Regions from separate parts of the Homo sapiens genome. Here all the other regions are linked to region 1. Evidence: fine-mapped expression QTL. A gene starts in region 1. Each other region holds a variant in brackets. All regions are shown on one strand. Distances are between the middles of the regions. Region 1 holds the start of CCDC144A (coiled-coil domain containing 144A). Region 2 overlaps CCDC144A (coiled-coil domain containing 144A). Region 3 overlaps CCDC144A (coiled-coil domain containing 144A). Region 4 overlaps PEMT (phosphatidylethanolamine N-methyltransferase). Region 5 overlaps PEMT (phosphatidylethanolamine N-methyltransferase). Region 6 overlaps CCDC144A (coiled-coil domain containing 144A). Region 7 holds the start of SMCR2 (Smith-Magenis syndrome chromosome region, candidate 2).

Region 1 (4,066 bases):
TTTTCAGTTCCATGAAAGACATGCAAGTTGACATTCTCTCATTTCTGAGATACATACTGACAATATATTTGCACACAACATCCCACGTGTTACTCAGCTCCATTGATCACCTTACTGCATATTTTTGTAGTGAAAAATCACAATTTTAATATTAGGTGATACCCAGTTTGCTTTGACTCACACTGTCTTTGGAACTAGTCAGCAAATAGTCAAATGAACTTCTAGTGACTGCGCAAAATATGGACCACTTCAAAAATCTGTGCATCATCCTTATGCAGGCAGGGGCCATGCTAATTTCTCTCCATTTTGTTCCAATTTCAGTATATGTTTGCTGCTGAAGCAAGTTTTGTTTGTTTGTTTGTTTGTTTGTTTGTTTTAGACTGAGTCTCGCTCTGTCACCCAGGCTGGAGTGCAGTGGCGCGATCTCGGCTCACTGCAAGCTCCGCCTCCTGGGTTCATGCCATTCTCCAGCCTTAGCCTCCTGAGTAGCTGGGACTACAGGCGCCCACCACCACGCCCGGCTATTTTTTTTTTGTATTTTTTAGTAGTGACGGGGTTTCACCGTGTTAGCCAGGATGCTCTCAATCACCTGACCTCGTGATCCGCCCACCTTAGCCTCCCAAATTGCTGGGATTACAGGCATGAGCCACTGCACCCTGCCAAAGCTCTCATTTTATACATGGATATTCATGAGTCATGGATGAGACTTAGCTCTGTTAAATCCAACTAACATACTTGAGACTCAGAATTCTGGTGATGGCTTCCTGCCACAAATCTGGGAAAGGATAATATGGGACATTCCACGATCTAAGAAAAGGGTCCTCAGCATACAGATCTGGTAGCAATGAAAAAAGGAAACTCCTCTCTTTCTGCAACATTATTTGAACTGAACCCCGAGGGCCTAAAGGATAATTTATCATGAAGGTCTTAGCTAAGTCTAGGCTGAGACAAAAGCATAACAGGCGGGGTTTCACCATGTTGGTCAGCCTGGTCTCGAACTTCTGACCTCGTGATCTGCCCTCCTCGGCCTCCCAAAGTGCTGGGATTACAGGCATGAGCCACCGAGCTCGGCCAACATGAAGTTCTTAAGGATGGAAGGAACCTGAGCGACAGTAGAATATGTCTGCTGTATAATAGGTATTCAGCTTATGTTTGATGAATAAATTGAGAAAATGGATAAACACAGTTGGGAAGTGCAATATTTTTAAAGAAAACTCCTGTAAAGTAGACCAACACTTTTGCAATAGTAATAATCCTTTATATTTGATCCCGTCTCACTAAGAGGCCTGGGCCCCTGACCCCTCTGACGTTTCCCCATCCCGGGTGCCGTGGGGCCTGCGGGCACCAGAAAGCCAGTGTCCCCGACAGGACGGCGCATCCTTCGCCTGGCCATTACCTCTTCTTCCTATCCCTCTTGTCCACGCCAGTGTCTCCAGGAGCTAAGATGTGCTCCACCCCAGGGACGTCGCCCGACCGGGCAGCTCTGTGGAGCTCGCCAAGATCTTCCAGGCGGACGTCGTGCTGGGGCTGGTCTAAGGCGCCCTCACCGTGCTTGCTCTCGCTGCCGACGCTGTTTTTCCACCAGCTGTAGGGGAAGCCCGAGGACCACTGGTCCCCCGGGTAGCCCAAGTACCACTGGTCCCCCTGGCTCCCGACGCTAGGGGTCTTCCTCGTGGCGTAGACTGCCGGCTTCGGAGACCCCTCAGCCCCTCCCCGCTTTTCTCCACCCCAGGAGGCCATCAGTAGCGAGCTACTGCCTCGGCCACAACCTCCCAGCAGGATAGCCCGCGGTTTCCAATCTGCGAAAGGAGGACCGCCAAGCCAGAAATGCCAAGCCAAGCGATCACTGCCACGCCAAGCCAAGCGACCACCGCCAAGCCAACAGCCACCGCAAAGCCTCGTGGGTAAGGCCAAGCCAATCCGTTACAGACCAGTGCGCCTGCCCACCTGTGACATCACGGAACCTGTGACTTCACTGCATCTGCAGCTCCAGCCTCCCAGAAAAAGACTCCTTGGCCTGCAGGTGGCGCTGCAGCTCCAGCCTCCCAGAAAAAGACTCCTTGGCCTGCAGGTGGCGCTGCAGCTCCAGCCTCCCAGAAAAAGACTCCTTGGCCTGCAGGTGGCGCTGCAGCTCCAGCGCCAACCTGGGCTGGCTGGTCCTCCCTCGGAGGTTTCGGGGTGGCGGTGCCCAGCCTGCCTGTCATGAGTGCCGCTTCACAGCGCCGCCGGCGCACCTGCTCCTAGGCTTGCTCGGTTCAGGGGTACGGGTCAGTTCCGCCCCCGGCTTGGCCACTGCAGCAAAGTTGCCCTAGGGTCCGCGCTGCCAGGACGCAAGCGGAGTCAGATGGCTGGGTCAGAGCGGCCTGTCAGCCCGGCTGGAAGGGCCTGCCCGACGCCGCTGCCCGCCCAGCTCCTACTCGGCCTGCGCCTGGAGCCAGGGACCAGCTCTGGGCATTCTGCTGCCTTAGGATGGGGCCAAGCAGCCGCTCCCCGCCGTGTGCCGCAGCCGCTGCGCGCATCTGCCCAGGGTCCGTGCAGCTGGCGACCCGGGCGGGTCGGGGAACGCCTGGTGCCACCAGGATTGCTCGCCTCTAGTCCGTCCTGACCCTTCAGCCCGCGAGCACCAGTGAGATTGAAGAAAAGTGACGGCCAGGCGCGGTGGCTCACACCTGTAATCCCAGCACTTTGGGAGGTTGAGGCGGGCAGATCACTTGAGGTCAGGAGTTTGAGGCCAGCCTGGCCAACATGGTGAAACCCTCTCTACTAAAAATACAAAAATTAGTTGGGCGTGGTGGCGCGTGCCTGTAGTCCCAGCTACTCCAGAGGCTGAGACAGGAGAATCTCTTGAACCCGGGAGGTGAACGTTGCAGTGAGCTGATATCGTGCCACCAAACTCCAGCCTGGGCGACAGAGCAAGACTCCGTCTCAAAAAAAGAAAGAAAAGAAGGAAGGAGAGAACGAAGCAAAGAGAAGGAAAGAAGGAAGGAAGAAAGGAAGAAAGAAAGGAAGGAAGGGTGACAAAGGAGAATCTAGAGAGCACTCAAATACTAATTCTTGAGGACAATTAAGACAGATAGCATTATGAAAAACAGATTTTGTCACTGAAGCCTCAGGGCTTCAGCCTAGATCCTGCGCTGCTCACCCACAGAAAGCCAATCACTGAGATGAGTATTGCAAAGGAAGAAGGCTTTAATCAGATGCTGCAGCCGAGGAGATGGGAGCTCAGTCTCAAATCCCTCTCTCTGACCAACTAAAATTAGGGATTTTTAGTATAGCAAAGAAGAAATGTAACTATGTATAAGAAAACATGAACTAGAAAGGCGTAAGGAAGCAATCATTTACAAAATATCTGTGGCCGGGCGCAGTGGCTCCCACCTGTAATCCCAACACTTTGGGAGGCAGAGGCAGGTAGATCATGAGGTCAAGAGATCAAGACCATCCTGGCTAACATGGTGACCCCTTGTTCTCTACTAAAAATACAAAAATTAGTTGGGCGTGCTGGCACGTGCCTGTAGTCCCAGCTACTCGGGAGGCTGAGACAAAAGAATCGCTTGAACCCAGGAGGTGGAGGTTGCAGTGAGTCAAGATCATGCCACTGTACTCCAGCCTGGCGACAGGGCTAGACTCCATCTCAAAAAAAAAAAAAAAAAAAAAAACAGAAAAAGAAAAAAAGTATCACCCTGCCTCCTCAATCTTGGCATAATTCCCCCTATGAGTGGTTTCTGGGGTCTCAGTTGGCATTTAGTCACACGTATGACATTGCACATATCGTGTGCACATCTGCACAGCTCAGCAGTGTCCTGGGTAGGCCTTGAAGGGTGATCTTCACGTAAGCCTGTGGCCTGAGCAAGAAAGCTGCACACGGGCAGCGGAGGAACCAGCAGGAGCCCAGTCCTCTGTGGAAAATTCCAGCACCACCCGCAAGAGCAGCTGCAGTGGAGACTGTGACCTGACAAGGATATATGCATGAAGATGCTGGTCTGAAAACAGACTCAGTTTAAGGGTGGCACTTTGAAAAAATATTGATACATGTCAGTGAGAAAAAAATAATTAGAAACAAAATATA
Region 2 (4,066 bases), 69 kb before region 1:
TTCCATATAACTTTTGAGGTTTACTACTTCTTGTTTCAGCTGCTTCTTATTCTTCTGTAGTGTTTCACATTGCTTTTGTATTGCTTTCATAGAGAATAATGTCTGTTGAAGTTGAAGAACTTCATTCTCTGCATCCAGATGTAGACATCGTGAAGGTACAGTTTCCTGTGCTTCTGTAAGGTCAATCTGCATGAGTAAAACAATATAGTTTTGTAATGAAGAAGGTAGACTGAGAATGGTCTAACAAAAAACTAATAATTTTTTTTTTTTTTTTTTTGAGATGGAGTCTCGCTCTGTCGCCCAGGCCGGAGTACAGTGACAGGATCTCGGCTCACTACAAGCTCTGCCTCCCGGGTTCAGGCCATTCTCCTGCGTAGCTGGAGTAGCTGGGACTACAGGTGCCCACCACCACCCCTGGCTAAATTTTTTTTAATTTATTTTTTATTTTTAGTAGATGGGGTTTCACCGTGTTAGCCAGGATGGTCTCGATCTCCTGACCTCATGATCCACTCGCCTCGGCCTCCCAAAGTGCTGAGATTACAGACGTGAGCCACCGCGCCCAGCCAAAACTAATAATTTTTGAAATAAATTCAGTTGCAATAAAATGTTACCTATACTGTTGTAGATTCATAAAATACAGACCCTTGGATTACTCAGAAAATTAAAAACAAAGTTAAAACCACCAGAATTCACAAAAATACATCCTTTACTTTCATCATCTTTGCCACACAACATTTGGACTTGATCTTAGACTTCTGTTTTCCTATGACTGTTTCATGGCTTTCCTCCTTAAAATGGCTCTAAGTTACCCCTTTAGCACAAAGTCTCTTATTCCTTTAACCCACTATCATTCTCCATAATTTGCAGAGAAGTTTTAGGGGCATCATATTGAATTATTTGGGCCTGAGTCAATAAATGGCTCCCATAATAAGACTCTGAAAATAAGACTCTAATTAATACATTTTGAAAAAAAAAAAAGGATTCCAATACCATAAGCCTTTTGCTGAACTGCAAATGTCTTACGCTAATTTGAGTTACATTTCAAAGAGTAATGATACTTGGAGTTAAGAAGCAATCACATCTCCCAGTATAAAAGTTCAGTGGCATGATCCATACCATTTTTCTGAAGAAAAATGCCTTAATTCAGTAGCACAATCTTGTAATTCATTGTTACTTTACACAAAATAAGGGAGCACATTAAAGAATGACAACAAAAAATTGCACTGAAATTTCAATGGTGCTGAGTTGGAAATAACTGCTTTCCTTTAGAGGAAATAATTATGATTGTTTTTTATTTTATAAAGGTAAGTGAAGTGGTGGTTTTAAAACATCTACAAATTGCTTGCCACTTCTCCCATGACATTCCCTCTCCTAAATACAAGCTGGCATTGACAACCGGTTTCTCCGGAACACAATGTGGCAGAACTGCTGTGTGACTTCTAAAGTTGGTTACAAAAAGTCACACAGCTTCTACCTGACTCTCTCTCTAGGGACGCTTGTCCTTAAAATGCAGCCAACATGCCGTGAGAAAGCCCAAACCATACCATGAACCCTCATGTAGGTAGGTGTTCGAGCTGACTTCCCTACCTAACGTCCCAGCCAAAAGCCAGCTTCGAATGCCGCACAGGTAAATAAACAAGCCTTTAGATGATTCTAGTCCCCAGCTTTAAGTCACCTCAGCTGATGCCAAGTAAAGAAAAAGGGAGTTGGCCCCACTGAGCCTTGCCTAAAACTGCAGATTGTGAACAAAATAGATGTTGTTTTGAGACACTGCATTTTGTTATATACCAAGAAATAACTGATACAGATATTGACACTACATATAGATTGCACAACAACAACACAACAAAAACTACTAAAACATGTAGGATTACCATTGGACCAGGAGCTAATCAGAAGCTGAAAGGACCTACAGAAGAATAAGCACAAAAACAAGAAGAGTTTTAAAGAGACTGTTAGTGGAAGCCTGATGGTCCTCGAAGAAGCTGGTAGGAAGGGCTCCAGGATAGTGAAGAAAAC[G/A]ATACGGGAACCTGAAGGAAAGGGCACTGTTACTACACAGCCGCTGAAAGTAAAACCAATGCAAGAGATAAGCTAAAGAAAGACTACTACATATAAAAGAACCAGGACTTTCTAGGTTCAGTATCCTTTTTATAGCCTCTCCACATGTCAGATTCCCAAATATAGACAGTCCTTGACTTAGCATGGTTCGACTCACCATTTTCTGACTTTTTATAATACTGTGAAAATGATATGTGTTGAGTAATGACATGATATGTGTAAGCCTTTTGGCTTACAGGGGTGGTTACATCAGGATAAAGTCACTGTAAATGGAAATTATCGTAAATGGAAAACCCACCCATAACTTCTGATATTTACAATTTATGATGGCCTATAAATTACAAATATCAGACATAACAAATGCAAATGCCATCCAGACATAAACCCATCCTAATCTGAGGAGCATCTGTATTGCTGAGATAAATGGCCTCTGAGATAAGATCAAATCCAGGGTGCTGCCAGGAGAAAGTCTGAAGGTGAAGCCAAGACTGTCAGTGTAAGGCTCTATTTTAAGACCTTAGAAAGATTTAAGGTGGTGCCTCAAATTCCCTTAAAGATCTTAAGGGTATACGCATCTTAAGGCACTGTCGTACTACACAGAACAGTGTGCTTCCTTCACAGGAAGCACAAGGTGAAGTGCTTATCTCAAAGAGATTGGGACAAGTGGTTTTTCCAATGACAAGAACTCAAGTAAAATTCACAAGAGACTCTAAGAGAATTATAGTAACAATAGCACTGCTTGCTAGCTTGGCTTAAAAGACAACAAGACAGTAAAAATGAAAAGAGGCCTTAGGACCTAAGAGCTTCTACAGGGAGGAAGCTGGCTGAAGAAACTACTTAGCTGAAAACACAGGTCATTGCTTATGAAAAGGATACAACAAAGAGCCAAGAAGGTACCACAAAAAGCCACAGAGGATGGTTCCCATGAAGTCCAAATCAAGTAAGTGGAAGCACACATCAGGCTGTATTTCAGAATTTCTATGGTCTAATATTCCCTTTGTGACTCCCATTTTCTCTCTGTTCAATAGGAGGGTCTCTGGCAGTTTAGGAGAATGCTGGGTGGGTGAGTGGTAGACAAGTTGTCCCTTTAGTTCTTACGTCTTTGTGTTGACAAGAAATGCACTCAAGGGGTTATACCGCAGAAACCACAACCCAGGGTGCATCCCTACCGTCTGTGATAAAGATGGTAGGATCTTGCACTTCAAGCCTGAGCTTGCTGCCATATTAAATGAAACTTGTGTGTGTGTGATGGGAGGTTAGGATCTTGCACTTTAAGCCTGAGTCTTCTGCCATATTAAATAAAACCTGTGTGTGGGGTGAGAGGTAATAATTAGAAATTAGTGTGTTTTTCAAGTGGTAGAAATCTTTTAAATTATAGTTATAGGGTCAATTGTGCAGGTTTTAAAACACGTCTATACATTCCTTAATATGCACAGCATAGACAGAGACATCATCGAGATGGCTGACTGGGAATACCCAGCACTCACCTCTTTCAAAAAGAAAAACCAAAACAGCAAGTAGGTAACCACACCTTGAGGAAAACATCAAAGAGAGTATACTGGAATTCAGCAGGAAATTGATAGGGATCCTCTGATGACAGAAGGAAAGGGAACTGAGGTAGCCAGCCCAACCAGGATCATCTCAAAACCAGGACCGATTCCCCCAAATCCCTAGCCCCACAGCACCATATACCTGTGGAAATAGGTGGTCATCTAATAGCCCACCAGGGAAGCTACTCTAGGTCAAAGGGATCCTAAGTGTGTGCTGTCTAGAGCCTAGGAGCCACCTGACTGACACCACTGCCACCACCAGCAGCCCTATCCCCTTCAGGGGCAGTGCTGTGCATACCTGTACATACCTTTAGGAGGCCGGAGGACTGGCCCACTCAAGTGTACCATGCAGGAGCCTGAGAACAAGCCTGTCAAGCCCACCAGGGGTGGCGCCCATGTGAGCCATATGAGAGCCTGAAGACAAGGCCACTTTGCTTGCTGCTGCTATTGTTGCTATC
Region 3 (4,066 bases), 81 kb before region 1:
CACAGCTTCTGGTTTTCTCATTCTTCATTCATTTATTCAACAACCACATGCTAAGGTACTAGACTATGCCCTGGAGTTACAAGATGAAGATGATACAGTCCACCCCTCAGCAATCATATGCTATAACCTGAAAAAGCAGACAAATAGGCAATTTCCATACCAAGTCATAGATACCCTGACAGGTATAAAACAGGGCACTATTGGAATGCAAGAGGGACACCTATCCCAGTTTTGTCTCGATACTGTAGGCTTTTCGGTGGAGGCATGGTTAGTGGATACCTGAAGGATGAGAAAAAAAGGTTGGCAGATAGAGCAAAGAAGCAAGTGCAAAGAGCTGGAGGAGAAGGACGAGCACTGTGGAATTCTGTGCAGTCCAGTTTGGCTGGATCCTAGAGCAAAGGGGCAGAGTAAAGTAAGTGGTGAGAGATAAGCCTGAGTAACTTGACAAGAACCAAATGAATGTGGGTGTTTATATTACATGTTAAGGAATTTGGAACTTTTTCTGAGGGCAAAAGTAAACCAATGACACTGTAAATGACTGGAGATTTAAAGTGTTACCTCTCAAGCGACTGCTTATAAACTGTAACTGCTTGAATAGGTTACTAGATGAGACTGGGATGTTTTGGCCTTAAAAATCACTACCATAACCCTGAGAAGTTGATGATGCTTCTGTTTTCTGAGAACCGTTTCTGTGTGCTGGCTGACAATTCCATAGGGATGGCAGAAGTGAAGAGTAGAGCCAGACTTCTTGAGCTATTTTTTTCAAGCTATGGAACGTGATGAATTCATGAGGCATAAGTATGCTCTTCATTATACATGTTCAAGTTTTCACATCTTTCATTAGATGTATATGAAAGAATATTTAATGTAGTATCTACTAGCCCAAGAACGGAAAGGGATGTCGTTTGCAGTTTATTTCAGATATATATTACTTAATCTAAATTTAATTCATAAATTTTGGTAACATACCTGCTACTTCTGCAGTTAGATCATTTTGCAACTTCTGCTGCATCTGAAATAAGTCAAATATTATTTATAACGTTTAAGAAGATACATTATCATGGTAAGGAGCATTAATTACAAAATGCGGCCTTTAAATAATACTTTTACAGACTAGACCTAACTTGAAGATTGCTTAAATTAAAAATATCATATAAATTCCTACCTATTTTAAGTTTAGATAATGGAGAACATATATGTGTTATGCTGTTTAGATTAATCTCACAAAAGTACAATTAATATTGGTCTGTTGGAGCTATGTCATTTCAAAAGTGTGATGTTTTCCCTTATTAGTACAGAGGTTACACAATTCAAGTCATATTCTGCAATGAATGCATTACTTTCCCATTCTTATCAAAACTCTGCCCTTTATCAAGGTCTAACCAGTTTTTCACTTTAATGAATAGTTCCTTACAATGAACTCCCCATTCTCCACTTTTAGAAAATAATAATTTCAAAGTATGTTCTTTGCTATTAATTCAGCACAGAATCTTTAATACATACTTGAAGAAAGCAGTATTGTTGTGATGCCATGTGAAAGTTCCACTGGCAAAAGATTAAAAATATTATGCTATTATGATTAACATTTCTTCATTCATA[C/T]GGACACAAAGATTTCAGAAAATTTACATAAAAACAAGGATAAATACAGGTTAGAGCCAGTTTTCAATCTTAGTTTCTTTGATTCATGAGTGTCTAGAATTAAAAACTAGGAAAACAATTTAGAGTTATTTAACTGCAACTTTGATTTCTTTTCAGAAATTAGTACCCATTTTTTAAGCATCTGACAAGTTATAGTTATCTACTTAATTATGAAAGGTGTCAGAATATTTCAAACTTATTGCCAGTGTCCCTATCTAGAGTGCTCTTATTTAATTTTTTTTTAGAATAGGTATTCTCTCACTAAATGCCTAGAACGGGGTCTGAGATAGTTTGTGGTGATAAAGATAATGATATCTAATGCCTTTAGAAATTTTAGGTGTCAAGTCAATTTTTTTTTTTACTAACAGGTTTACCAATATTTTGAGACTCCTTTCCATAACATTTCTGTGACAAAAACATTATAGATAGGCTTTATAGAGTAGGTAACATGACAACAGCATTACCATCCAGGCCTTATAAAAGTAATAATTCAAGAAATGATCCTTTTCAAGCTATGTCCCACAGAAATCTAAGGTTCCACAGAGGATGCTGAAGGATTAAGGGATAAGAAAGTCACAGCTTCAGAGCACTGATCCTTCCTTTAGTCAGGCAGCACTACTTCTGTTTTCTATAATGTGGTTTTATGCAATTTAAAAAAGTTCCATTCTTAAAAAAAAAAGAGATTTACTTAAACGTATGAATGTCACTGATTTAGTCAAAGTCCTTAATTTTACATAAGAAACAAAACAGGCTCGGAGAGACTGCAGCTTGCCTGAGGTCACAAAACCAATTAGTTACAAGGTAGGAGTGGGCTTCAGATCTTTCACTGAGCCTGGAGTTATTCTATGCCAGCACCTTCCTTCATATTCAGAAAAGAAATACAGATTTTTAAAAATAACTCAGGCTGGGCACGGTGGCTCACACCTGTAATCCCAGCACTTTGGGAGGCCGAGGCGGGAGGATCACAAGGTCAGAAGATCAAGACCATCCTGGCTAACACAATGAAACCCCGTCTCTACTAAAAATACACAAAATTAGCCGGGCATGGTGGTGGGCGCCTGTAGTCCCAGCTACTCAGGAGGCTGAGGCAGGAGAATGGTGTGAACCCAGGAGGCGGAGCTTGCAGTGAGCTGAGATCGTGCCACTGCACTCCAGCCTGGGTGACAGAGTCAGACTCCGCATCAAAAATAATAATAATAATAAAAATAAAAAAATAACTCAGACAGTCCAGGTGTGGTGGCTCACGCCTGTAATCTCAGCACTTTGGGAGGCTGAATTGGGTGGATCACAAGGTTAGGAGTTCAAGACCAGCCTGGACAATATGGTGAAACCCCGTCTCTACTAAAAATATAAAAATTAGCCAGGCGTGGTGGTGTGCACCTGTAGTCCCAGCTACTCAGGAGGCTGAGGCAGGAGAATCGCTTGAACCCGGCAGGCAGAGGTTGCAGTGAGCAGAGATCACGCCACTGCTCTCCAGCCTGGGAGACAGAGTGAGACTCTGCCTCAAAAACAACAACAACAACAAAAAAGAGAAAATGCATCTATAAACTGTCATGATGCTCTATAATGTTTAAGCATGAGACAAAAAATAGTAGCTCTCCAAATTGTAAGTTATGAATCAAATTTAAAGAACAATTAATATCATAACTTCTGGCTAGTACCAGTCAAGACACTCAATTTATAAAGAACCCATTTTTCAAACCGCAGAACAGAAAACTTGAAGGAGAAAATCTTTAGTTGAACCAAGCAAGCAGAAATTAAGAAAACTGTTCCTTAAAAGAACTATTCATTCTCCTCCAAATAAGACGTGGTTTAGGAAAATCAATCAAGTCAATTATCCATGTTGTGAGTTATTTATAGAAAAACTGAAAACACAAAACAGATTTCTCTTTACCATCTACCATACGCCTGTCCAACTTCTCATCATTAATTTGTACATACAAAGACATGGGATTAATTTCAATTATCACTTAAATCCAGCCATAAATGATAGGAGAACCTTCATTTTCCTGGCCTCAGGTTTCAAATGAGGACTTAGACTCTCTCTACCTACAGCTTCCTCTTGAGAGGATATCAGATCTACCTAATGGGTGAATTTGGGCAAAGCACACAGTGTGCTTGCTTGGCTCAGGGTCTCTTTCAAAAGATGTGTCTGCCCACAGTGACATGAGTTCAGGTCTGCTGTCATCTCTGCAGTAAGCAGCATGCACCTGCGATGGGTGTCAAGCATTTGTTTTCTCCACTTAAAACTCTGTGGATTAGTGCCTAATCTGGGATAAAATACTGTGGCTGCACATCTGAGCCACATCCTCCCATTAGTTATCATGAGTCTGCAATAGAGCTAGTGTGTTGATGTCCATCTATCTGACTCCTGTGTTCTGAACTCAGAAGGGAAGGAGGAGCACCATTTGCTGCCTATCCACCACAG
Region 4 (4,066 bases), 820 kb before region 1:
AGTGCTGGGGGGATACGCAGGGAAGGAGGAGCAACTTCTGTTCCCCAAGAGCTCCCAGTCAAGCTGGAGGAAGGAGTTCCAGGGAGGCATAAAGACATGTCTGTATGTCCTTAGCTCAGCATAAGGAGTTTCACAACAATCTGAATTCACCAATGAATGGAACGAGTGGATGAAGATGGGGGCTTCAATCTGCTTGAAAGAGCCTAGCAAACAAAGATACTTCATGGTGGATGGATGGATGGTTGTGTGGGCAGATAGAGGATACATTGATGGATGGAAGGATGGATAGCTGGACAGATGGATGGATGTGTGGGTGCATAGAGGATAGATGGATGGAGGAAGGATGGGTGGTGGGGTGGATGGTAAGCTGGCCCTGCTGGGAGATGCCGTCTACAGACTGGGTGTGAAAGGCGCTGCCCTGCGTGAGGTAGCAGATCTCCATGTCTCTTCTGTGTTGTGATTATTGTGAGCATGGGAAGAGCACATTTGGTCACACATGTCCGTGCTCCCACACACAGCCTTTCCTGTGAGTGTGCCTCTCATCTAGCACCCAGGGCCCCCTTCCCACCAGCGCCCGCTCCCCTGTGATGAGGCCTGGGTACATCAGCACATGCCTAGCCCCTGTGCCCTCCCTGCACCAGCCCCTCAGTTCTCCGGAGCCAACTGGAGAACCTGAGCCTCTAGACCCACTGCTGTCATAGTCACCCCCTTTTGGTCACGCCACTGCCTTTTCTTTTTTTCTTTTTTCTTTTGATACTAAGTCTCGCTCTATTGCCCAGGCTGGAGTGCAGTGGTGTGCAAACTCCGCCTCCTGGGTTCAAGCGATTCTTGTGCCCCAGCCTCTCAAGTAGCTGGGATTCCAGGTGCCCACCACCACACCCAGCTAATTTTTGTATTTTGGGTAGAGACAGGGTTTCACCATGTTGGCCAGGCTGGTCTTGAACTCCTGACCTCAGGTGACCCGCCCACCTCGGCCTCCCAAAGTGCTGGGATTGCAGGCGTGAGCCACCACACCTGGACCCCACTACCTTTTTACAAGGCCTTCAGTGGTTTGGCCCCAAAGGGAGCCTAGTGGGGGAATTCAGGTGTGGAGGAGGACATTAAGGGCCCCCAAAGTGCCTTTAAATGCAAGTCAAGCCACCCAGGATGTGGCCAGACCCACAGGGGCTGTGGAAGCGCAATCCCTAGCACAGAGCATGCCCCAGGCCTCGGGGCACTGAGTCTGTTGGGGAATGGGACACCTGGGCCTGCCCTGCAACCTGGCACCTGCGTCTTTCCTGAGCCTCACTTTCCTCCATAGTATGAGTTGCTCATTGGACAGGATGAGAGTTTGCAAGCTGGTGGCCTTCGGGCTGAATCCAGCCTGCTCACATGCAGGGTCTAAAGTGGCTTTCATGAATTGTCTATTTCTAAAAATTAGGATATTTCACATACGAGTCAGGATTTCTGGCTTCTCTTGAAAAAATTTAAAAATCTGACAGGCCTGGGCCCCTCCCTGTTACTGTCACCCACCTCCCAGGTGGACTGGACCCCACCTGCTGCCTGCCTGGCCTGGCAGCCCTGGGCTGGCTACTCTCTAAGGGTCCCTGGGGAGAGGGCGAGAAGATGAGGTCGGCCTCCTCCCGGGCTGTGACATCCTCCCTGGCCATGACGTCCTCCCTCTCCATCCCCTGCCCACAGCTTCACGCAGGCCATGCTGAGCCAGCCCAGGATGGAGAGCCTGGACACCCCCGCGGCCTACAGCCTGGGCCTCGC[G/A]CTCCTGGGACTGGGCGTCGTGCTCGTGCTCTCCAGCTTCTTTGCACTGGGGTTCGCTGGAACTTTCCTAGGTAAGACCCTGAGGGCTGGGGTGACCCTGAGCAGGACCGCTGGAGCCCCAGGGAGGTGCAGGGCCAGGTGGCTGCTGCCCTGCTATCCGTGACATCGGTGGGAGTGCTAGGGGCCCCCTCCATCGGGGCGTCTTTGCTCCTCCAGGCCTGGCTTGTCTGTGGTTAGAACAGGAGGCTGGGCTCCAACAGCTCCTCTTACCCCAGCGTGCTGAGCGGCTGCCTCCTGGGGAGTGAAGGCAGCTCCTGCTGCTTCTCTCCAGCTAATGAAGATGCACTCAATGCCCGTTCTGCGGCCCGGGCTGGGTGCAGGACTCCTTGAGTCCAGCTCCAGCACCAGCTCCCCCTTGCAGAAGACTCTCAGGCCTTGTTGCACAGAAGCCTGAGGTGGTGGTGAGTCAGCCACCTCTCTGGCAGCTCCCGGCACGCGTGGCTCTCAGGCCAGGCAGGATTGTGGTTTGTGCCGTGTTTGGCCGCAGGCAGGGCTGGTGTAGGTCTGGGGAGGGGTGAGGGGTGGAGGCACCTTATCCCTTCTCCATTTCCCTCTGCCTGTGGCTGAGGTGCTTTCAGGCTGTGAGCCCAGTGCTGGCCTGGCTAGACGCCCACCAATGACCCTGATGATGGCAGCAACTTCCAGCTCCTTGGAATCTGGGAAAGAAAAGCAGCCATGGGAAAGGCAGTAGGGGTCGGGGTGGGAGGGGAGATGGGGGCAGGGGTGGGGGACAAGAGGGGGCCTTCGGAACCTGGAAGGAGAGAAGGAGGCAGTCCCTGTCCAAGGGGAGCCCCTCCCAGTGAGCAGGGAGTTGGTCCAGCTGGCCGCATTGCCCGCTCTCCGTCATGGGTGGGAAGGCCCACGTCTTCCTCCCCATCAGCCCTGGCCAGTGCAGGAGCTTGGAAGTCACTCGGCTTCAGTGGCCTCAGTAGCCTCCTGGGACCAACGGTGTCCTGAGGAGCTCCCGGGCCTGCCTGCCATCCCCATCCTCAGATGCCGGCTACAGCTCCTTGGGCCCAGCCCCCAGGGCACCGTGGGCTGTCACAGGGCACTCCAAGTTCTCAAGGAGCTTGTGCCTGCCAGTAGGGGTCCCCCCGAGGGAGGAAGTGGCATCTGTGGGTGCAGCATTCTGGATCGCCCATGGCCAGGCCTCTCTGGGACTGTGGGGGGCACCCACAGGCAGTTCAGTGCTTCCTGCTCAGGCAGACGCTGTAGGGAGTTTGGTCCAGGAAGGGGGACAGCAGCCAGGAGCGTCTGGATCTGCCAGGTGGGGGCAGGTGCGGGCAGGTAGGAAAGAGAAAAAAGCCTTGGTGCAAGGAGAGGGAGGTTGAGGGCAGAGTAGCTGGCAGCTGGAGGTGGGGGGCAGCTGGACTGGCCGCACAGGTGCTGTCGGTTGGGACAGGGCAGGAGGATGAGCCGAGGCCTTGAAGGCCATCCAAGGGGCTGAGGCTCCATCCCCAGAGAGGTGGGAGCCATAGGGGGGGTCCCAGCAAGGAAGAGGTTGGACCGATGGAGCCAGGATCAGAGGTGGGGCTCAGGAGGAGCTGTGGAGGGGCCCTTCCAGGATGTGAGGGCGGTGAGGGCCCCATGGGAAGGGGGACTCCGGGCTGTGCAATCAGGTCCTGTGGGAGACCAGCGGCGGGGGCCCTCCAGTGGCCAGTGCTCGGGTGGATCTGGACAGGGAGGGCTGCAGAGGCAGCGTAAGGAGAGCCAGGATGGTGGGTGGAGCCCCTCAGCAGTGGAAGAACAAGCTGGGGGTCCTGGACAGTCAGAGGGAGGGAAGGAGCCTGCAAACACCAGTGGCCACAGCCTCCTGGCGGCCCTGCCAGCAGACATGGCCTAGAAACACCGAGGACCAGCAGCGCGGTATGTAGGCAAAGGTGGTCACTTCCTGCTGTGACTCAGCTCGAATTGGGTTTCTGTGCCATCTACGCACACCCTGTGCCCCACTTCCTGCTTCCTGGGAAGAAAGAACTTTCCAGTGGTCCTGGGCCCTGCCCCGTGTCCCCAGATGGTGATGAAGCTCCTGGACCCCTCCTGCCCATGCTGCCCATTGTCGGGCAGCTGCCCTACTTTCCGCCTTGGATGAAGCTCCATTGTCCTCTGGGAGGAGAGACAAATGAGGGGTTTCTGGGGACAGAAGGCTGGGAGGAACGAAGCCACACCCTTTATGGAGCGGTTACTCTGTGTCCAGTGGGACTGTCCTCTGTGGGCCTGGGACAGACACTGTGACTGTGACCCCGGCCACTCC
Region 5 (4,066 bases), 890 kb before region 1:
CACGTGCCCCCCGTATGCGGGTGGCGTGGCCGGGATGTGGGCACACACTTTTTCAGTTTACCCCGCCCCACTCACACCCTCGTGTGCACTCAAGATTGTCCCCTGTCGAGTGTGGGCGAGGAGAGGCACACCACTATTGTTTTAATTTGCTTTTACCTGATTCCTGGTAGGTTGAGCATCTCTTCACATTTATCTCAGCTGCTTGGGTTTCCTCTGGGGCCTCTGAGAACCCTCATCCAGGAGGGTCTCGGTCACACCAGGGTTGGTGTCACCTCCCTTCAGGGTGCCAGGCACCCCTCTTCAGAGGTGCTGATTTCCTCATCTGGCATCCAGGCACATTTCTGCGGCCGCCCTCCCAGGACATGACACAGCTCATTAGGTTTCAGCTTTTTATCTTCCCTTTTATGAGACTACACTGTAGTAACCTTTGCCGGACTTGGATGTTCCCAGGCCTCCCAGTGTGTTCCCAGAGGGTAACTTTTTCTCCGACTCCTGGGGGCTCACAGGCCCTGCTGTGTCTGGGTGGTGCTGATGCTAGCTCTGTCCCTGCAGGCAGACTTCTGCGTTATGACCCGGCTGCTGGGCTACGTGGACCCCCTGGATCCCAGCTTTGTGGCTGCCGTCATCACCATCACCTTCAATCCGCTCTACTGGAATGTGGTAAGTGATGTGCCTGACACTGTCCAGACGGGAGTATCTCACTGCTTGGTGAGCCCCACATGCAGGGGATCGCGGTGGTTGCTGCTGGCTGGCCAGACAGACAGACAGCTCTGCTCTTCCCTCCCGTGTCTGTCGCTGGCTGGTGTGGAGTACTAGGCGCTTCCTGCCGTCTTGCCTTGGGGATCCAGCAGCCATTGGGCTGCCCAGGCTGGCGTCAGGATGGTCCAGGACTGTAGGGGTGGCCCTCCTACCCTCACAAGAACCTGCAGGAGAACGCTGCCATGGTGGGGCTGCCATTGGTCACATGTGCCTGGCAGTCTGGTGGCCTTCTCATGCATGAAGTGGGTTGCCCAGGAAGTAGGGGCTCTCTTCCCTCTCTGCCATGTCACACAGTAAAGCCACTTGCTTGTGAATCTCCCACCCCTCGTGTGTTCCACAAACATGGTTATTTTTCCCACATGAGGCTTCCTGCAAAACGGCCTGCGCATTCCGGACCTAGGCGAGCTGGGTGGCAGGAGCAAGCCGGCATGAGTTGAAAGGAAGCCACCAGCGTGGCACCAGCTCGTGATGGGTGCCAGGGGATGTTTGGGTGCCCGGGCACCAGCACCGAGGGGTGGGTGGACTGCATGGGAAGTGGGCTCTGGGCCCTTCGAGGAAAGTGTGGGAGGGGAGGGCCGTCAGTTCCTTCTGCAGCCTTTCTGAGATGCCTCCCACACCTCCCAGACTGTGGGGTGAAGCTCTTGGGGTTCCTGGCCCGCTCTCCCAAGGCTGTCTCTGGGGGGTGCTTCTGGGCTGCTTCCCGGGGATCCTGCTGGGGGAGTGGGTGGTCCTGGGGCTCAGCGGGGGTTGGGCTTGCTGATGCAGAGCCCTGAGCGTCCTGTGATCACCCCCGAGGCTAATCTGCAGAGTAAGGCCAAGATCAGCGTCAGCAGCACATTGTTCCAGACAGTTTTCATTTAAGGTGAACCCTTGATCCCAGGGCAGAACAGGACATGTTTTTCATTTAGTTTATGACTTGAGATTTTTCTCCATCTGGTGAGAGAAGTGGGTGGGGGCCAGCCTGCTCATGTCAAAGACAGTGCATTCCAAAGAATGCCCTGTTCCTGCTGTCCTGAACATGCTGGACACACTCCGAGGATGGATGCTCTGGCGGCCCACAAGGGAGGGGCTTCGAGGGGAGGTCCAGAGGTGGGAGTGAGACTGGCGAGCTTGGTGTAGCCAAACACAGGCCTCCCGGACACCCCTTTCTCCTGAGAAGCCTTGGCTGGGCTGGGGAGCACCTGTACTCTCAGCCACACCGTCCCCAGCTGGCCCCAGCCTCCTGACATGGGCCTCTGGAGCCAGGGCTGCAGCCGAAGTGCCTGGCCATCCTGGCGTTTCCTCCCACTGCCTGGCCTGCATGCTTCCTCTCTCCTTTCACCTTTGCACACACCCAGCATGCCAGAGATATGAGGTGGTGAAGGGTGAGGAGGGTGTTTGGAGGCTGAAAAATGGTCCTGCAAAGACGTCCACATCCTGTGAAGGTCTCTTATATGGCACACACACAAGGATCTTTGCAGACGTGATGAAGTCAAGGAGCTTGAGCTGGGGAGATGGCCCTGAGTTACCCAGGTGGGCCCTAAGTGCCATTGTGTGTGTCCTTTTAACAATGGAGTGGCACAGGGACATTGAAACACAGGAGTGTCTCTTGTCACCATGGAGGCAGAGGCTGGAGTGACCAAGCCACTAGCCAAGGAAGGCCAGGCCCACCAGAAGCTGGAAGAAGCAAAAAATGGAGTCTCCCCCAGAGCCTCTGGTGGA[A/T]GCACAGCCCAGTCGGCACCTTGATTTTGGCCCAGTGGTAACTGATTGGGGATTGCTGTTGTTTTCAGCCCCTAAGTTGGCAGTCATTTGTTACAGCAGCCACAGGAAGCGAGGCCAGGGTATTTAAAAAGCCAAAGACCCCTGCTGGAAGACGTTGTGGGCCTAACCTTTGGAGTGTTGGGTGTGCCACGCTCTTGGCTGTCCACAGTCCTTCTCTGAGGGAGATGTTGGGCTCTTACAGCCGGAGGAGGTCCCTGCCCTCTGGCTTCCTGCAGGCCTGACGTTGACCAGCAGTCATTGAGGTACATATGGGTCTCCCAGCACTGGGAGCTTGGCTGGCTGAATGCATAGCAGGTCCTGAGGACGCTTTTATTTATGCACAAGCCCCCTCAGGTCACTTCCCACTAGCCTAGCCAACAGTGTGTTTTTAAAGTGAAGTTCATTGTGAAGGTTCTCAGTGGCTCATGAATGGCAGAGTGGTTAAGATGCAGTAAGATTTGGCCGGGCGCGGTGGCCCACGCCTGTAATCCCAGCACTTTGGGAGGCTGAGGTGGGTGGATCACCTGAGGTCAGGAGTTCGAGACCAGCCTGGCCAACATAGTGAAACCTCATCTCTACTAAAAATACAAAAATTTAGCCGGATGTGATGGTGTACGCCTGTAGTCCCAGCTACTCGGGAGGCTGGGGCAGGAGAATCTCTTGAACCCAGGAGGCGGAGGTTGCAGTGAGCCGAGATGGCACCACTGTACTCCAGCCTGGGTAACAGAGTGAGACTCTGTCTTTAAAAAAAAAAAAAAAAAAAAAGATGCAGTAAGATTTGGAAGACAGCATGTGTCTGTGTGTTTGGCATACGGTTTTTTTTTTTTTTTTTTTTTGGTCATAAGCTTTTGATTAGTCTCATTTTGAGATAGTTTTTCACTGGAACAGTTTGTGGTCATTGGTGGGAGAGGGAGTGAGCTCTTCAAAGTGGTTTCAAAAGGAGAAAAGTTAAGAAACATGTTGCAGTTCCGTGGGCTGCTGCCGGGGAGAGTATCCGGACGGCATCTGGAATGGGATGACGAGGCCCAGCTCTGTGATGCCAGAAGCCCAGTGGGTGGATCAGTTGAGCCAAGGAGTTGGAGACCATCCTGGGGAACATGGCAAAACCCTGCCACTACAAAAAATACAAAAATTAGCCGTGTGTGGTGGTGTGCACCTGTAGTCCCAGCTACTGGGTTGGCTGAGGTAGGAGAATCACTTGAACCCAGGAGGTCGAGGCTGCAGTGAGCTGTGATCACACTACTGCACTCCAGCCTGGGCAACAGAGCAAGACCCTGTCTTAAAAAACAAAAACAAAGACAGGCCAACAGGCCACAACCAGGGAAGCACTTAAATAACTTAATAGTTATCAATGCAGTTGTCCCTGGGTATCCATAGGAGATTGGTTCCAGTTCCCCGTGGATACCAAAATCGGCAGATGCTCAGGTCCCTGATGGGAAACAATGTTGTATTCGAGTATAACGTATGCCCACCCTCCCATATACTTTACATCATCTCTAGATTACTTATCATACCCAAGACAGTGTACATGCTGGGTAGTTACACTGTATTATTTTTTATGTTATTA
Region 6 (4,066 bases), 86 kb before region 1:
CAGATCTTGTGACATTCACTCACTGTCATGAGAACAGCATGGAAAAGACCCGCCCTCATGATTCAATCATCTCCTACTGGGTCCTTCTCACAACATGTGGGAATTATGGGAGCTAAAAGATGAGATTTGGGTGGGGACACAGAGCCAAACCATATCATGGTGATTTTGGTTTCATCAAATGATTTAGGGAAGATTTCTCTTTCTCTATCCTGTGAAATAGTGTTAATAGGATGAGTACCAATTCTTTGAATGTCTGATAGAATTCAGGTGTGAATTCATCTGGTCCTGGACTTTTTTGTTGTTGGCAATTTTTAAATTACCATTTTCAATCTTGCTGCTTCTGATTGGTCTGTTCAGAGTCTCTATATCTTCCTAATTTAATCCAGGAGGGTTGTATATTTCCAGGAATTTATCGATCTCCTGTAGGTTTTCTAGTTTATGGATGTGAAGATGTTCATAGTAGTCTTGAATAATCTTTTGTATTTCTGTGGTATCAGTGGTAATATCTCCCATTTCATTTCTAATAGAGCTTATTTGGATCTTCTCTCTTCTTTTCTTGATTAATCTTGCTAATGCTTATCAATTTTATTTATCTTTTCAAAGAACCAGCTTTTTCATTTATCTGTTGTATTTTTTTGTTTCAATTTCATTTAGTTTTGTTCTGATTTTGTTATTTCTTTTCTTCTGCTGGGTTTGGATTTGGACTGTTCTAGTTTCTCCAATTCTGTGAGGTGTGACCTTAGATTGTTTATTTGTGCTCTTTCAGACTTTTTGATATAGGCATTTAATGCTATGAATTTTCTTCTTAGCTCCACTTTTGCTGTATCCCAGAGTTTTTGATAGGTTGTGTCACTATTATCGTTCAGTTCAAAGAATTTTTAAATTTCCCTCTTGATATCATTGTTGACCCAACAATCATTCAGGAGTAGGTTATTTAATTACCATGTATTTGCATGCTTTTGAGTGTTCCTTTTGGAATTAATTTCCAATTTTATTCCACTGTGGTCTGAGAGAGTACTTGATATAATTCTGATTTTCTTAAATTTACTGAGACTTGTTTTGTGCCCTATCATATGGTCTATTTTGGAGAATGTCCCGTGTTCTGATGTATACAATGTATATTCTATGCTTGTTGGGTAGAATGTTCTGTAAGCATCTGTTAAGTCCATATGTTCCAGGGTATAGTTTAAGTCCATTGTTTCTTTGTTGACTTTCTGTCTTGGTGATCTGCCTAGTGCTGCCAGCGGAGTATTAACATCCCCCACTATTATTGTGTTGCCAACTACCTCATTTCTTATGTCTAGTAGTAATTGTTTTATAAATTTGGGATCTCCAGTATTAGGTGCATATATATTTAGGACTGTGATATTTTCCTGTTGAACTAGTCCTTTTATCATTATATAATGTCCCTCTTTGTCTTTTTAAAACTGCTGTTGTCTTAAAGTCCGTTTTGTCTGATATAAGAACAGCTACTCCTGCTCGCTTTTGATGTGTCCATTTAGACGAAGTGTCTTTTTCCAACCCTTTGCCTTAAGTTTATGTGAGTCCGTATGTGTTAGGTGAGTCTCCTGAAGACAGCAGCAACTTGGTTGGTGAATTCTTACCCATTCTGCCATTCTATAT[C/A]TTTTAAGTGGAGCATTTAGGCCATTTACGTTCAACATTAGCATTGAGATGTGAGGTACTATTCTATTGTAACGCTATTTGTTGCCTGAGTACCTGAAAACCTGGAAGCGTTCCCTTGAAAACTGACACAAGACAAAGATGCCCTCTCTCACCACTCCTATTCAACACAGTATTAGAAATTCTCACCAAGGCAATCAGGCAAGAGAAAGAAAGAAAAGCTATTCAAATAGGAAGACAGGAAGTCAAACTATCTTTGTTTGCAGATGATATGATCCTATATCTAGAAAACTCCATCATCTCAGCTCAAAAACTTCTTAGCTGATAAGCAACTTCAACAAAGTCTCAGGATACAAAATCAATGTGCAAAAGTCACTAGCATTCCTATACACCAACAACAGGCAAGCCGAGAGAAAACTCATGAATTAACTCCCATTCACAATTGCCACAAGAAGAGTATAATACCTAGGAATACAGCTAACAAGAAAAGTGAAGGACCTTTTCAAGGATAACTATAAACCATTATTCAAAGAAATCAGAGATGACACAAACAAATGGAAAAACATATGCTCACAGACAGGAAGGTTCAATATCGTGAAAATGACCACACTGCCCAAGGCAATCTGTAAATTAAATGCTAGGCCCATTAAACTACTATTCACATTCTTTACAGACCTAGAAAAAGCTATTTTAAAATTCATATGGAACCAAAAAAGAGCCCAAATAGCCAAGACAATCCTAAGCAAGAAGAGCAAAGCTAGAGGCATCATGCTACCCAGCTTCAAACATACTACAAGACTACAGTAACCAAAACAGCATAGTGCTGGTACAAGAACCGACACATAGACCAATGGAACAGAATAGAGAACCCAGAAATAAGACCACACACCTACAACCATGTGATCTTTGACAAACCTGACAAAAGGAAGCAATGGGGAAAAGATTCCCTATTTAATAAATGGTGCTGGGAGAACTGGCTAGCCATATGCAGCAAATTGAAACGGGACCCCTTCCTTAACCCATATACAAAAGTTAACTCAAGATGGATTAAAGACTTAAATCTACAACCCAAAACTATAAAAATCCTGGAAGAAAACCTAGGCAATGCCATTCAGGACACAGGCAAGGGCAAAGATTTCATGACGAAGATGCCAAAAGCAATTGCAACAAAAGCCAAAATTGACAAATGGGATCTAATTAAACTAAAGAGCTTCTGCACAGCATTAAGAACCTATCAACAGAGTAAACCGACAACCTACAGAATGGGAGAAAATTTTTGCACTCTATCCATCTGACAAAGGTCTAATATCCAGCATCTACAAGGAACTTAAACAAATTTACAAGAAAAAAAAACTCAACCCCATTAGAAAGTGGTCAAAGGACACAAACAGACACTTTTCAAAAGAAGGCATACATGCAGCCAACAAACAAAAAAACTTCAACATCACTGATCATCTGAGAAATGCAAATCAAAACCACAATGAGACACCATCTCACAACAGTCAGAATGGCTATAATTCAAAAAAATGAAAAGATGCTGGCAAGATTATGGAGAAACAGGAATGCTTTTACACTGTTGATAGGAGTGTAAATTAGTTCAACCAGTGTGGAAGACAGTGTGGTGATTCCTCAAAGATCTAGAACCTGAAATACCATTTAACCCAGCAATCCCATTACTTGGTATATACCCAAAGGAATATAACTAATTCTAGTATAAAGATACACGCACACGTATGTTCATTGCAGCACTATTCACAATAGCAAAGACAAAGAATCAACCTAAAAGCCCATCAATGATAAACTGGATAAAGAAAATGTGGTACATATACACCATGGAATACTATGCAGCCATGAAAAGGAATGAGACATGTCCTTTGCAGGGACATGGGTGGAGCTGCAGAACATTATCCTCAGCAAACCAACGCAGAAATAGAAAATGAAATACTGCATGCTCTCACTTACAAGTGGGAGCTGAATAATGAGAACACATGGACACATGGCGGGGAACAACACACACAGGGGCATGTGGGATGGTGGCGGGTGAAAGAAGGGAGAGCATCGTGAAGAACAGCTAATGGATGCTGGGCTATTATTAATACCTAGGTGATGGGATGATCTGTGCAGCAAACCACCATGGCACATATTTACCTATGTAACAAACCTGGACATCCTGCACATCCTGCACATGTACCCCTGAACTTAAAAGATGAAAATAAAAAATAATAATAATTGCAGGTCACCTGATAGAATGCAGTGAGAAGATCATGGGATAACTTCTGTGATACTCTTGCCAAAAAAAAAATTATCATCTAAATCTTATCATAAAAAAAGTTCAGAGAAATCCAATGGAGGGACATTCTGTATTATTGGACTTTACTCTTCAAAAGATTTAAGGTCATAAAGGTCAAAGAAAAACTGAGGAACTGTTCCAGACTGAAAGAGTCAT
Region 7 (4,066 bases), 990 kb before region 1:
TGCCCAGGCTGGTCTTGAATTCTGGGCTCAAGTGATCCTCCTGCCTTGGCCTCCCAAAGTGCTGGAATTACAAGTGTGAGCCACCACGCCTGACCAGAACTGCCACTTTTGAGTACCTACTGTGTGCCAGGTGCCTAGGGATGTTGTAACAAATTCCACAAGTGGCTTAAAATAACACAAATTAATTAATTAATTAATTTATTTATTTATTTATTTATTTATTTATGACAGAGTCTTGCTCTGTTGCCCAGGCTTGAGTGCAGTGGCGCAATCTTGGCTCACTGTAACCTCTGCCTCTCGGGTTCAAGTGATTCTCGTGCCTCTGCCTTCCAAGTAGCTGAGACCACAGGCACATACCACACCACCAAGCCTAGCTAATTTTTGTATTTTTTGTGGAGAGTGGGTTTCACCATGTTGCCCAGCCTAGACAGATTTATTCTTTACAGTTCTGGAGGTCAGAACTCCAAAATCAGTTTCACTGGGCTAAAGCCAAGGTGTGGGCTGGGCTAGCTCTCCTGGTGCCTCCAGGAGAGAATCTCTTCCTTGCCTTTTCCAATTTCTGGAGGTTGCCTGTGTTTCTCAGCTTGTGACCCCTTGGTGACCTCCAGAAGCTAGAACAGGCAAGAAAACAATTGCTTCCATTGTCCCAGCTTCTACTTCCTCCCTTGACCTTCCTGCCTCTGCTCATGAGGACCCTTGTGATTCCATTCCGGTCCACCTGGATAATCCAGGCTAATCCCTCCATCTCAAGAAGACTCTTAATTTATTTAATCACATCTGCAAGGACCCTCTGAATGCTGTCTTGCCTCAACTCATTTTACAGATAAGAAAATCAAGGCTCAGAGAGGTGAAGTCACTGATCCAAAGTCACACAGCAGGTGAGTTTAGTCACCCATTTCATGCATGGAGAGCCCACTGTGGGTCAGACACTGGGTTAGACCCTGGGTTGCAATGTGAAAGTTACCCATGAAGAGTGCTGTGGTGCCCAGGCATGCAGAGTAATGACCTAGTCCTGTCAAGGAATTCAGGGAAGGCTTCCTGGAGGAGGTGATTAGTGAGTTGAGCTTTCAAGAGTGATTTTCCTCTGCCTGCTTTAACCAGGGAGGCTTCTGAACAAACGAGGGCCCTTCCAGAGGAGGACAGCCATAGGCCTAACCATCCTGAGACTGCTCTGAATGATGCTGGTTGAGAGGGCTCAGTCTTCTCAGAAGAGAACTAGGAACTGATCAGGGATCACTGTCAGCAGAGCTAGCCCCAAGACACTTCTGCTGCTGACCCTGCTTGTCATCCTTAGTTGCACACAGGTAGAAGGGTGAGCAGGGGTGTGCACGCTATGCAATGCAGAGGCTCAATAAAGTCAGTGTTGGGGCAGAGTCTCAAACTTGCAGCTCAAAGGCCGAACTCAGGCTGCTAGGTTTGTTTTGATTGGAAAGCAGAGCAAAAAGTGAAAATTTTGAAGTTGACATACGTTGCCAGGTGCAGTGGCTCATGCCTGTAATTCCAGCACTTTGGGAGGCCAAGGCGGGAGGATCACTTGAGCCCAGAGTTCAAGGCTAGCCTGGGCAACATAGTGAGACTCATCGCTACAAAAAAAAAAGTTTTGTTTTGTTTTGTTTTGTTTTTAATTAGCCAGGTATAGTGGTGCATATCTGTAGTCCCAGCTACTTGGAAGGCTGAGGTGGGAGAATCGCTTGAGCCAGGGAGGTCGAGGCTGCAGTGAGCCATGACAGTGCTACTGCACTCCAGCCTGGGGGACAGAGTGAGACCCCATCTCAAAAAAAAAAAATAAGAGAGAGAAAAGCAAGAAAAGAAAGGAAAGAAAGAGAAAGAGAAAGAGAAAGAAAATAAATATCTTTAAGGAATCTAAGTTCTTCGGGGCCCCACCACTACCTATTGTTCTATACCCGCATTTAAATCACCTGGCTGACCAACCCCTCAGCACACCCCGACACACACACACACACATACACACACACACACACACACACACACACACAGCCTTGGGTTTCAGACACCTTCCCCCCAGGGTTCTTAACACTCACATCTGTGTGGCCTTGAACTTCCTGTCTGTTTTCTCATAGGTCAAAAGGAGATCATGTTTCCTGCCTGGAGGAGAGGCCCCGGTGGACTGGAATAGGAGAAAGTGGAGGGGGTGTATTTCAGGATAGAATCCTGCACCCTGCCAGGGACCACGCTTATCCTTGGCTCACTCAATAGGATGCAAGGGCGTTTACTGTGGCCAGGTGATTCCCGCAGCCGCTGTCTCACTAGGTCTCACCTGCATTTCAATAGCCTCCTTGTTCAGATGAGGAAACACACTTAGGGAATGAAGTCACTTGCCCAAGATCACACAGTCATACTTAGAGTAGGGATTCTCCTGGCCTGAGCTCCTGCCCACGCTGCCGCCCC[G/A]CCTCCTCTGCGATGAAAACTGGATGGAGGCTCCGGGCTGTTCTTACAGAGCCCAGGCAGAGTGTGAGTGTGCAGGAGGACTCCCATTAGCAAGCATGTAGCTAGTACTTATTTGGCACCTACTATGTGCATTTCAGTCTTATTATCTCCATTTTGCAGAGAACATAGAGGCCTAGAGAGGGGAGGAAACTCTCCCAGAATACCTTCTTCTGTGTAGGTAGCTGTCACCCAGGCTCTCTGCTTAGACAGTAACAGAGGAATGAGATGGAAAATCAGAACTCCTGCCCCAGCTCTGCCACCGTGCCACCAACAGCACGGCCTTGGGTACCTCCTCACCCTCTTTGAGACTCTGGTTTCTAACGAGGAGTGTAGCAATCCGTGCCTCCTGGGCTTATGACGATTTAAAACAGTTCAACATTGTAGAACTCTGGACCACCAACTGTTGCTGCTCCCCCTCACCCCATCAGCCTCCAGCACTTCTACAGAGAAGACAAATGTGAATGTGAACCTTTCTTTTGTAGGTCTTGTGAGTGCCCAGAGCCCTGTGGCAAGAAGCCTCTGCCAGGGAAAGGGATGCGGGGAAGTGGAGGCAGTGATGGGGAAGCAGAGCCAGGAGAGACCCTTGGGCTTCCTTCCTTCAAGGCCTCTGGTCTCTAGCAGAGAGAAGAGAGGGAGCAGGTGAGAGCCCCACTTAGCTCTAGGCAATATTTTTTTTTCAGACAGGATCCCACTCTGTCACCCAGGCTGGAGTGCAGTGGCACAATCATGACTCACTGCAGCCTCAACCTCCCAAGCTCAAGCAACGCTCCCATCTCAGCCTCCCAAGCTCAAGCACCGCTCCCATCTCAGCCTCCCAAGTTGCTTGGACTACAGGTGCACGCTATCACGCCCAGCTAATTTTTGTATTTTTTGTAGAGATGGGTTTTTGCCATGTTGTTCAGGCTGCTCTTGAACTCCTGAGTTAAGTGATCTGCCTTGCCTACCTTGGCCTCCCAAAGTGCTGGGATTACAGGCATGAGCCACTGCGTGCAGCCGAGCCAAACCTCATTCTAGATTCCATCTCCAGGAATAATGATGTGGGACCCACCACACAGCCCCCATAGTCTGGCAAGTGAGACAGACATTGAACCCACTCTAAAGAAGGGTCTCATTATCCCAAGAAAAAGACCACTTTGACCACAAGTCAAAGCTCTGGGAACCAACATTTCTTAGTAATTGGGAAAAAAATGTTTAATTGGAATTTTGTTTTGAAAAATGAAATTTAAACTATGAAAATATACACATTTTATCTTCCACAAACAACATTTAGGTTAATATGCTAATTCTTAGATTAATGTGCTAATACTTAGTGTTATGGTTTGACTGTCCCCTCCAAAACTTATGATGAAATTTATTTATTTATTTTATTTTTTTTTTTTTTAGATGGAGTTTTGTTCTTGTCACCCAGGCTGGAGTGCAATGGCATGATCTCGGCTAAGTGCAACTCCTGCCTCCTGGGTTCAAGCAATTCTCCTGCCTTAGCCTTTTGAGTAGCTGGGATTACAAGTGGCCACCCCTATACCCAGCTAATTTTTATATTTTTAGTAGAGACAAGGTTTCACCATTTTGGCCACGATGGTCTTGAACTCCTGACCTCAAGTGATCTGCCTTCTTTGGC

Evidence for each region.
Region 2: its variant is fine-mapped to the expression of CCDC144A in visceral fat (GTEx, PIP above 0.99). The same link has a PIP of 0.9 or more in atrial appendage, esophagus mucosa, esophagus muscle, fibroblasts, lung and sigmoid colon.
Region 3: its variant is fine-mapped to the expression of CCDC144A in subcutaneous fat (GTEx, PIP above 0.99). The same link has a PIP of 0.9 or more in atrial appendage, breast, cerebellar hemisphere, esophagus mucosa, esophagus muscle and fibroblasts.
Region 4: its variant is fine-mapped to the expression of CCDC144A in whole blood (TOPMed, PIP above 0.99).
Region 5: its variant is fine-mapped to the expression of CCDC144A in whole blood (TOPMed, PIP above 0.99).
Region 6: its variant is fine-mapped to the expression of CCDC144A in skeletal muscle (GTEx, PIP above 0.99). The same link has a PIP of 0.9 or more in atrial appendage, breast, esophagus mucosa, esophagus muscle, fibroblasts and lung.
Region 7: its variant is fine-mapped to the expression of CCDC144A in whole blood (TOPMed, PIP above 0.99).

The regions. Positions count from the first base shown.
Region 1 is chr17:16,688,075-16,692,140 of GRCh38, reverse strand. It overlaps CCDC144A (coiled-coil domain containing 144A), which reads right to left and starts at 1,900. Exons shown (of 17, transcript NM_001382000.1): 1 at 1,397-1,900. The coding sequence starts at 1,740. It also overlaps the pseudogene RNU6-405P. RefSeq lists an enhancer at 2,007-2,910.
Region 2 is chr17:16,757,545-16,761,610 of GRCh38, reverse strand. CCDC144A (coiled-coil domain containing 144A) reads right to left here. Exons shown (of 17, transcript NM_001382000.1): 13 at 1-186. Among named protein-coding and RNA genes, the nearest start is that of FAM106C, 29 kb to the left of the region's middle. The variant G/A (reference allele first, on the strand shown) is at 2,020.
Region 3 is chr17:16,768,923-16,772,988 of GRCh38, reverse strand. It overlaps CCDC144A (coiled-coil domain containing 144A), which reads right to left. Exons shown (of 17, transcript NM_001382000.1): 16 at 970-1,012. Among named protein-coding and RNA genes, the nearest start is that of FAM106C, 18 kb to the left of the region's middle. The variant C/T (reference allele first, on the strand shown) is at 1,600.
Region 4 is chr17:17,510,269-17,514,334 of GRCh38, reverse strand. It overlaps PEMT (phosphatidylethanolamine N-methyltransferase), which reads left to right. Exons shown (of 7, transcript NM_148172.3): 4 at 1,681-1,826. Among named protein-coding and RNA genes, the nearest start is that of RASD1, 16 kb to the right of the region's middle. RefSeq lists enhancers at 1-736, 737-1,606. The variant G/A (reference allele first, on the strand shown) is at 1,756.
Region 5 is chr17:17,573,514-17,577,579 of GRCh38, reverse strand. PEMT (phosphatidylethanolamine N-methyltransferase) reads left to right here. Exons shown (of 7, transcript NM_148172.3): 2 at 553-660. Among named protein-coding and RNA genes, the nearest start is that of PEMT, 16 kb to the left of the region's middle. RefSeq lists an enhancer at 234-979. The variant A/T (reference allele first, on the strand shown) is at 2,461.
Region 6 is chr17:16,774,460-16,778,525 of GRCh38, reverse strand. CCDC144A (coiled-coil domain containing 144A) reads right to left here. Exons shown (of 17, transcript NM_001382000.1): 17 at 645-4,066. Among named protein-coding and RNA genes, the nearest start is that of FAM106C, 12 kb to the left of the region's middle. The variant C/A (reference allele first, on the strand shown) is at 1,624.
Region 7 is chr17:17,674,387-17,678,452 of GRCh38, reverse strand. SMCR2 (Smith-Magenis syndrome chromosome region, candidate 2) reads left to right here and starts at 765. Exons shown (of 4, transcript NR_131243.2): 1 at 765-878; 2 at 2,082-2,243; 3 at 2,931-3,087. RefSeq lists an enhancer at 2,421-3,049. The variant G/A (reference allele first, on the strand shown) is at 2,410.